Linked DNA regions of Homo sapiens: region 2 is linked to region 1. The links come from fine-mapping of genetic effects on gene expression. Tissue or cell type: gastroesophageal junction. Region 1 holds a variant in brackets; the other region holds the start of a gene. All regions are shown on one strand. Distances are from middle to middle.

Region 1 (5,157 bases):
GGTGATCCTGACATGCTTCCTGTCATGAGTGGAATCAGAAACTAGCAGTAAGAATGGGTAGAAGCCACCAAAGACTTTGCCAGAAATTCTGTACAAATTGCCACTTTACCTCAATAATGATATCAGAACTAATATTTATGGAGTATTTCCCACACCCAAAGCTCTGAGCTACATGTTTGTCTTGTTTAACAGAGGAGGAAAATGAAGTATAGGAGGCATAAGTAAATTGTCTAAGGACGTACGTATATTAACTGGCAAAGTCAGGATTTGAGTTTAGGTCCTTCTAGCCCTCACAATATTCATGGTCTCTAAGCTTTACTGTCCTCAAACCACAGATATGTCCTGGAGTTAAAAATAACAACCAAAAAATGGGTACCATTTGTTAACACAATTCAAGAAGTTTATTTTTTTTATTTAATCAGAAAGACAGCAGGACTTCAAGAAAATAGCATTTACTCTGTCCAAAAATCTAATTGCTATGTGGAATACCTATTAACCCCACTCAGAATTACCAAAGCAACCACTCTGCCATCCACAGAGTTAGAAAATAATTTCCAGATTTTCAAGAGAAGAGAAAACGAAGGCAAAAAGTGACCAATGTAGGAAGTCCAAAAACACTGTTAGTCTGATTTCCTTTACATTGTACCTGATTCTTCTGAGTTGAGGCTCTGGTCAAATACCATCCTCCTACTTTCATCCCTTTTCTTCCTGTGCACTTGCTCCACCTCTTATTCTGTCCACCTTCTCTGGTTTCTTTCTGCCCCTTTCACACACCAAGATCCTGCATCAAGGCCTCTGGCCTTTGCACATGCTGATTTGACTACCTGAAAAGTTGTTCTGCTCCCATTTCATTCACCTGTTATTTTTTGAACTTTGGAAATAATATCATTTCCTCAAGAAAGTCTTCCCTGACCAACCAGATGAGGTCAGGTCTCCCAGCAAGTGCCCTCAGAGCAACATGTAATTCTTTTCAACACTTATCATTTCTATCATTTACAAAGAGTTCTCAGTAGTTGCCTGCATCATGCCTGTCTCTCCTACTAAAGGACAAGCTTCATGAGGGCAAGAAATGCATCATCTGTTGTTTATAGCTATATCCCTGTCACTGGCCCCTGGCAAGCACTCAACTCATGTCTATTGAATAAATGAGGGTTGAGAACACACATTGAGTATCTGAGAATTATGGCTTTTTTTCTATTCCACTGTAAATCTCTCATGTCAGCTTTCCAGCCACTTAAACTCCACATGCCTGAGTTTTTATGAGTGGCTATGGGGAAAATCAAGTCCATCTGCTCTTTTTCTACCTCATAGGTGCAAAGAAAATAGTGTTATGATAAAATATCAAATGTGGCCAGATGCAGTGGCTCATGCCTGTAATCTCAACACTTTGGGAGACTGAGGCAGGTAGATCACTTGAATTTGAGACCAGCCTGGGTAACGTGGTGAAACCCCATCTCCACTAAAAATACAAAAATTAGCCGGGCATGATGACATGCACCTGTAGTCCCAGCTACTTTTAGGACTCAGGTGGCAAAATCACTTGAGCCTGGGACTCTGAGTCTGCAGCGAGCCAAGACTGCGCCACTGCACTCCAGCCTGGGAGATAGAGTGAGACCCTGTCTCAAAACAAACAAACAACAACAACAAAAAGAAAGAAAAAAAGAAACAAAACAAAACAAAAAACATCAAATGTAGCACTGATCAATTATCCTCCTTCAAAAAGGCTGTAAACACTCAAACCACTCAATACCAATAGTATATATTCTCTGGTCTTTATTACCTTTTCTGATTTTATAGTGGCCACACCTTATTCACTGGAAACTAAGGTATTTTTATTAATGAATAGGAAAATAATTGTAGCTTATGACAACACCAAGGGAATAATTTGTGATTTTTTTTTTTTGCTTCAAACCAGTTTAAAATCAAAAACAGTATTTCTACTACTTTCTGTTCAATTATAATTACTGTAATAGTTCACTCTAGTTTCAAAAAAATTGCAAGAGTAGATTTGGAAAAGACATTCTATAATGAAAAGGTTAGTTCTATAATTAGAATTAAAATAGTAAATTCTATTATAAAATAGCTAATTAGTTCCATACATGGAAATATCATCAGTTAGTGCTACTTTGATTTTTAAAAAAACTTATGGCTGAATATGTCTTTTAAGTTTATAGATAACATCTTGAACATTAACAGATGAAATAACTCTTTAGATAGTTAACTGGGGGAAAAAAAATCTTATACCAGAAAGAAAATAAAGGACTTTCTACTCAAATAGGTTACAAACAGAGCTTAGGAACAGAACTCATGCTGACAGCAGCTGTCACTTTTCATTTTTCCTTTCTTCCAGCACTAAGACACCTGACCTGTATAAACTGGCAATGGGCCAACATATTTTCCTCAGGATACAGAGTTAAGACCACTTGCAATCTTAACAATGCCATTAAGGCAGTTGATGCATTATACATGATGATGGACCTAGAGCAACCTTGCTTCAGTCCCAAGAGAAAGCAAAATTTACTTAATCCCCCCAAATTTTTTTCCTATAATGCAAAGAGAATTAAATCATGAAATCTGAGACCTTCCTGAAACCACACTGATTACAAGATGGCAGAGGAGCATATGTCTGCATAAGCCTGCCAGGGGGGAAATGCACACATCAATAAGCTCATCCAGAAGATACTAAATGATGCCTAGTGGCAGATAAAAAGTAAAGTTAGGAAACATACCTGGAATAACTGATGTTACATGTAAAGTTAGGAAACATATCTGGAATAACTGATATTACATGTGAGGAGGAAATAAACACTTTATCAGTTTGTTTGTTAGATTTGTATGGCTCTTTTACTCTCTTCCTGCTTGCGGGCTGTGTATGTTGTGGAACGGAGGGTAAAAGAGGTA[G/A]GGGGGATGGGTATTTTGAAGCTCTTTGGCAGAGATACAATCAAATATCTTCTAGTCTCTTGGCAGGATAATGGTATGTTTCAGCTTAGTTACTCTTGCCCATAAAACTTCACATTTACTCCAGATGCAGATAAATTTACACATAGGCAAAAGATGGGCATAAACTGAGCCATGTGTTTGCCATGTGCAAGACAGTAACATATTTCAAACTATAATGATTTGAAGCGATGGTGCTCCCCTGTGCTGAACAATACACAATCCAACTTCTATGAAGAACAAAGAAGGACTAAAAATGAACTCCAAAATGAAATAGTTTTTAAAAAAAGCGGGGGGTGGGGGAGTCTTTAGAAGGCATTGGTCTTTGGAATAAAGAAAATTTTATATTGGAATAATTGGGACTCACCTGAACTAACACATCTTCAATTCTGGCCTATTAAAACAACTACTAAAAGAGACGGTGAATTACAAATGGTAAATTGTAGAAGGGCTGTAATTAAAATATTTGCATTCTAATTCCTCTGCTATTATGATCATTTATTTCCATAGGGAGGATAAACTACAGTAGATTATAGCACACATTCTGGTGCCAGACTTCCTTTCTTAAAATTCTTGGGCAAGTTAGTTAAACTTTCTGTGCCTTCATTTCCTCATCTGCAAAATGAGGATAACAGTGGTATTACTTGGGGATAAAATGACTTAACATATGTGAAACACTTAGACTGGCATCTAGCACATAGTAAATACCATACAAGTATTTGCTATTACTCCAACTGCTACCAGTACTTTTATTAATCCTAAATCCAGTTACTAGTATTGATCTCATCTGAATATCATAGGATTGAAAGACATACAGATTGCATAATACAGGAAATCCCTGGTGTTAAAGTGAGCACTTATAGGAATATATAATATTTATTTGTAAAAATACAAGACTTTGACAATGATGTAAAACAGAAATACAACAAGTCATTATATTTTTTAATTCCATTAAGATGAGTGTCATTAACTAAAAAGAATAATCCATCAGTAGCCTTAAGTAAGCAAAATGAGTTTGGATTTGTAAGGAGAAAAGGTTAACTCTTCCAAATGACTAACAGTAAATTACTGGCGGCAGTTATTTGCCCCTAAGACTGAGTTAGGGAGCCTGAGTTAATAGACAGTATATGAAAGCATAATCTTTCTACAGGACAGCAATATACAGTAATTATTAATCAATGAAGCTAGCTCACTATGACTTACATATACTAACCATCAAAACTATAATATTTCCAGATAAACTTTTGTTCAGTATTTAAAATACTTCTGTGAGAATATCACAGTTCTTGAACGAGTAACAGAGAAAATTAATGAGTATTCCTCTGACACAATTCACTATTTAAAAATGAAAGTACTTAAAAATGGGCAACAGCTCAAACCCACAGGAACCAAGGGACACGGTTTCCTGTGTTGGCCCTATCTGCAATTACAGAATCATCTCTAAATCAGAAGATCTTAATATTGTTTCCCATAAGCACCATGAAATTCAATTCAATAATTTCTCATTAAATTACCATATGGTGAACCCTACTTATGGAATCACTTTTAGAAAGTTGAGCTCTTATTCTTGTAGGATCTTTATATCCTGAGGTTTTAAAAAAATCATTTTATTTCAGTAATTAGGGGAGAATGGAGTCATTAAAATATAATAATGTTTAAAGCTAGCCTACCTACAGCTAACAACTAAATATTCATGTATGAAGATGTATTGATAAATATTTTTAAAGTCATTTTAGTTTCATTACTAGTCAAACTGACATTAAGTCGTGGCCAAACTGTTTTTCAGAGAATGGTCTTGAAAATAAATTTTTGCAAGTCACCTAATTTTAAAATCTGTGTATTTGTGGTTAACTTGGTTCTGATTAGCATAGAAAGACACCATGTTCATAGCTATACCATCCAAAATTTCCTCTCCTGTCTGAGAGAACCTATGTGAGGTACCTGCATGCTCATGCCACAACCTGTAACACCTGCACCTGAGGGTTCTCTTTGTTCCACACCAAAAGTTCTGCTCTCAGAGTTTAAGCTTAACAGCAAGAGTCCTTAACCTAAATCTCCCAGCAAGTGCAGCAAGGAAAACATAAAAACAGATTTTAACATACAGGTAGTCACATCTGCCAAACAACCCTATCATTGCTTCATTAATTGTTTGTGATCATTTTAATCAACTGTATTTACACACACACTGTTAAAGAATCTATGTTCCCTAGCAGACAAAAT
Region 2 (5,157 bases), 460 kb after region 1:
CCTTTTCTTTTCAACTGTCTCTGATAAGGGCACACATGATCATTACATGACCTAAAGCCAGCCAAGACAAAAATGGAGAAGCAAAAGGAACAGTACCCATCACTGAAATTATTCATTCAATAAATATTTTTTGAGTGTTAGATGCTATACTGAGAATTTGAAAGAAAAAAAAAAAAAGACTAAGCAAAAAGCAGATAGAATCACTGCCCTTGTGAAGTTTAACAAAAGCTGATAGAGCTTTTATTAAATATGTTACCCCCCAAGAAGCACTGTATATGTTGAAACTACCCTTATTTTTAAAGCAATTTTTGATGTCTGTATATTATGGTTAAGAAAATCAGCCTTGCTTATGGTTCCATTTACCTACTTTAAAGATATTTACCTATATTTTAAAACACCTAACAGCCTATTTGTCTCAAAAAGTTACATCCTAGACAGCACAAACGGCAAATTAAACGGATACCATATTACTTTACCATTTACAACTCAAAGTGCTGTAATAATTACATTATACAAATACAGTCAATGAAGAAGGTCTTCTTGCTAGATAAACATTTGTAATAATTCAAGTATTTTTTAAAAAGTCACTGTGAGTTATTGCATTTAAGTCCTGGAATAATTATCTGTATTCCACTTAAGATGCTAGACACATTTTTACACAAGAAAAATAACGGAAAAATACAGAGAAATTGCAAAGGAAGAAAAAGTTTCATCATCATCTGATTCTTAAGAGGAATATCACTAGGTGATGATTAGGAGTCTGATGGAGGAAAGTAATTTTAAAACAACTTAATGGCTCAGAGAAGTTCCTAAGAAATTGATGCTTAGGGTTTCAATTTTTCTTAATACTCAGATATAAGACTTAAAGAAAATATATCAGCATGTTAAAAACCAGTTATCTCTGAATACTAGGCTTACTATAAATAGTTCTTTTTTTTTTTTTTTGACGAAGTCTCCCCCTGTGGTCCCGGCTGGAGTGCAATGACGTTATCTCAGCTCATTGCAACCGCCTCCCAGGTTCAATCGATTCTCCTGCCTCACCCTCCCGAGTAGCTGGGATTACAGGAGCCCGCCACCACGCCCGGCTAATTTTTTGTATTTTTAGTAGAGACGAGGTTTCACTATGTTGGCCAGGCTGGTCTCGAACTCCGACCTCGTGATCCGCCCGCCTCAGCCTCCCAAAGTGCTAGGATTACAGGTGTAAGCCACCGCGCCCGGCCCAATAGTAATTATTCTTTTATTGTTTCTATATTTTTCTGAAGGAAATACTACATTTACAGTTATAAAGCATTAAGGAAAGGCAGGCCTTAAAATAAATCATTGACATAAAGACTAGGTATCCTCCACAGTCCCACTCTTAATAACAACTGCAGAACCAGCACTAGCACTGTAGCTGAAAAGTGGATAGTACACACACGCTCACATACACAATGGCTGGCATGTAGTAGGCACTCAACTAACGTGTGAAATGAAATGGCTGAAGATAATGTAAACAAGCCAAAACAACGAAATGCACTCTGATTTGGGGGCAACACAGTAAACAATCACAGTAACTACCACTTTATCCAAAGCTCGCTGACAGCTGAATGGGCATTAAATGAAAGAGCTCTTCTTCCTTGCCCTCCTCTTTCACTCTGACGCTAGATTGCACATTCAAAACAAATCCTCCTCCAGCCCCGCCCCAAGCTCTACCCTCCAGTACCTTCAGCACTGGAACTGACACAAAGTCCAGGGCTGCGACGGTGTCCAGACCCGGGCCCCTGTCCAAGGAGCTGCGCGCTCACAGATTTGGCTGGCGCAACATAGGCGGGGGCACTGGGCGGCAGCCCATCATGCCCGGGACCCCCAAGGACCCGCGCGGAAGCCCAGAGCTCTCAGCCCCGGCGGGAGGCTGGTTCCCCTCGCCCTGCGCTGCCGTACCTGCACACGGTGATCAGGTTCCTCCTCTCCACCGCAGCATTGCGGGCGCTCAGGCTTTTCTTGCCGCCTCCGCCGCCACCGCCGCGGATCCCGCTCAGGCCCCCCAGGCTCCGGGAGGCCATGGCGGGCTTACCCCCGTGCCCCTTTTGTCTCGTGCCACCCCGCACGCCCCCCACACCTGCTTAAGGGGGTTCTCGCTCGGTCCGCAACCGTGGGGGCGCGGGAAGGATGTAGGAAAGGAGCCTGGAGGGAGGAAGGGTGTGGAAGACAGCAGGGACTCGCACCCGGGGACTGACGGCTCGCCCTTGGCACCCGAGCTCCACACACACACACACACACACACACACACACACACACACACGCACGCACGCACCACCTCCGCCCTCGGCGCGCCGCCGACTGCCGGGCTGCGCCTGCGGGTCGGCGTCAGGCGCTCTCCTCCTTCCCGAGGGACCTCAGCAGACGGCGCGCGCGCGAGCCCGTCGGCCCCTCACGCCCAACCACCCACACTCCGCAGCCACTCGTGCCCCAGCCCGGGAGGCAGCGGCAAGGCCCCCGGCCTCGCGTGCGCAGCCCCACCCTCTCTGCGCCTATCAAATCAACGCTACCCCCGCCGGATCCAATCGCGGCACCAGAGGGGCGGGGCCGGCCGCGCGGACCTTTTAAAGCAGCGGGCTCAAGCCCCGCCCCGACGCGTGGGCTGCTGTCAAGGACGCTGGGCTCGCTTTCGCAGCCCGCTAGCTGCCGCCAGTAGCCACACAGGCTAGCCGCGGGGATTGTGGGATGCGGGGCCCCACAGCGCCAGGGGCCTATTGCCCCCCCCTTGCCTGTAGCCAAGCTTTAACGGCTGATACCTATTTGCGTGGCTGCCGTAGCTTCAGTGCCTGCCTAGAAAGCAGCGCGCCGGCTCCCACACCCGACCTTGGGCCTAAGTACTAAGAAGGGAGGAGGGTTCCTTTTGTCCTGACGCCCTCCCAGGGGCTAATAAACAGCAACACAATGGCCCGAGGGGGGAATTGCTCGTAGAATCTCCTTCTTGGCGCGTCTAGTGCCGACATTTCTTGCCCCTCCACACCATGTCGCTCCCACCTCAGCCTCCAGCGCAGCCCGCACCCGGGACTGACGGCCCGCCTAAGGAGGAGCGTGGTGCCAGTGTAGAGTCTTTTCGCGTCCTGGGCCGTGACTCCGGAATCGGGAGTCCGGGTCTGGGAATAGTAAGCCCAGGAACGACGCGGCCTCGGTCCAGCTGGGCTGCTCCCTCAGAGTCCTGGAACGCCCTCCTCGACGCGCGTGTTCGGAAGCGCCCCCTTCCTAGAGCTTCTCACTACCCACCGTTTTACCTGCAGGAGGGTCCCAGCTTGGGTCAGGTCCTCTGACACTCACCTACGCCTGCTGTTCACCTCCCTTTGCACCAATATGCCCAGATTTTAGAGTGCAATCCTAAATGACTTACTCTCCCTATGGGACCTAGCACAGTGCTGTACATAGAACAGGTTCTCAATAAATGTTTCTCGAATTTAATTTGAAGTCACATTTGACATAATTTTTACTGAAATTTCACGGCTTCAGTGGCTCCAAAATCCATGTATCTTTCACCTCTACTTTTGAAGTTTCTGTCAAAGAATGTCAGAGAATATATAGTTTTGTGTGGCTATCTCTATTTTTCTTATATATTATCCCTGTTAATGCAGGGCATACTGTTACTCTTGAATGTTTTAACAACGCACGTTTGTGTAATAAAGTTGTAAATTCCTAATTTCTGAGGTTTTTAAAGTTTAAAAATCTCTATTTAAAATAGTCAAAAAATCATCCTTTTCAGCTACCATGTCTAATTTTATTCTACTATTCTGTTTAGTAGAATAAAAATATATGGGCTGGGCGCGGTGGCTGACGCCTGTAATCCCAGCACTTTGGGAGGCTGAGGCGGGCGGATCACGAGGTCAGGAGTTCGAGACCAGCCTGACCAACATAGTGAAACCCCATCTCTACTAAAAATACAAAAATTAGCCGGGTGTGGTGGCACGCGCCTGTAGTGGCAGCTACTCGGTAGGCTGAGGCAGGAGAATCGTTTGAACCCGGGAGGCGGAGGTTGCAGTGAGCGGAGACTGCGCCAGTGCACTCCAGCCTGGGCGACAGAGTGAGACTCCATCTCTCTCTCTCTCTCTCTCTCTGACATATATATGACATATATATGACATATATATGACACATATATATGACACATATATATGACACATATATATGACACATATATATGACACATATATATGACACATATATATGACACATATATATGACACATATATATGACACATATATATGACACATATATATGACACATATATATGACACATATATATGACACATATATATGACACATATATATGACACATATATATGACACATATATGACACATATATATGACACATATATATGACACATATATGACACATATATATGACACATATATATGACACATATATGACACATATATATGACACATATATGACACATACATATGACACATATATATGACACATACATATGACACATATATATGACACATACATATGACACATATATATGACACATATATATGACACATATACGACACATATATATGACACATATACGACACATATATATGACACATATATGACACATATATATGACACATATATGACACATATATATGACATATATATGACACATATATATGACATATATATGACACATATATATGACATATATATGACACATATATATGACAATATATATGACACATATATATGACAATATATATGACACATATATATGACAATATATATGACACATATATATGACAATATATATATATATATATATATGTCTCAGCCTGGGCGACAGAATGAGACTCCATCTCTCTCTCTCTCTCTCTCTCTATATATATATATATGTACATATACATATATATGTACATATATATATATATATTCCTCTCTCTCTAGCCATACGTATATAGTGTCAGTCTTAACTAATGTGCTATGATAAATATTCATTCATACATTAAAATTTTAAGAAAACAATTTAGTCAGACTTTACACTTTATCTTTCAAGTTAATAAAAGCAGGCGAAATTTCTATATATGGATGTTTGTGACTAGTCAGTGCACTTCTTCCAGAACATTACGTGTCTGCTCTCCTGTGACACGGAGGCTTATAAAGAGTCTTCTTTTCCTAGGAGCTACAACTTAACTT

Alleles and levels. Alleles are on the strand shown, and positions count from the first base shown. SD is a standard deviation of normalised expression in the study named.
With allele G in place of A in region 1, the expression in gastroesophageal junction of the gene that starts at base 2,468 in region 2 is higher (large effect, 1.0 SD a copy in GTEx).

Evidence for each region. PIP is the estimated chance that this variant, and not a neighbour inherited with it, causes the effect.
Region 2: it holds the start of RUNDC3B, and the variant in region 1 is fine-mapped to the expression of RUNDC3B in gastroesophageal junction (GTEx, PIP above 0.99).

What each region holds. Positions count from the first base shown.
Region 1 is chr7:88,090,031-88,095,187 of GRCh38, reverse strand. All of the region lies in intron 4 of ADAM22 (ADAM metallopeptidase domain 22), which reads right to left. Among named protein-coding and RNA genes, the nearest start is that of SRI-AS1, 120 kb to the left of the region's middle. The variant G/A (reference allele first, on the strand shown) is at 2,902.
Region 2 is chr7:87,625,709-87,630,865 of GRCh38, reverse strand. It overlaps RUNDC3B (RUN domain containing 3B), which reads right to left and starts at 2,468. Exons shown (of 11, transcript NM_001134405.2): 1 at 1,921-2,468. The coding sequence starts at 2,042. It also overlaps a transcript of ABCB1 not described here. RefSeq lists silencers at 2,224-2,273, 2,324-2,553 and an enhancer at 2,419-2,713.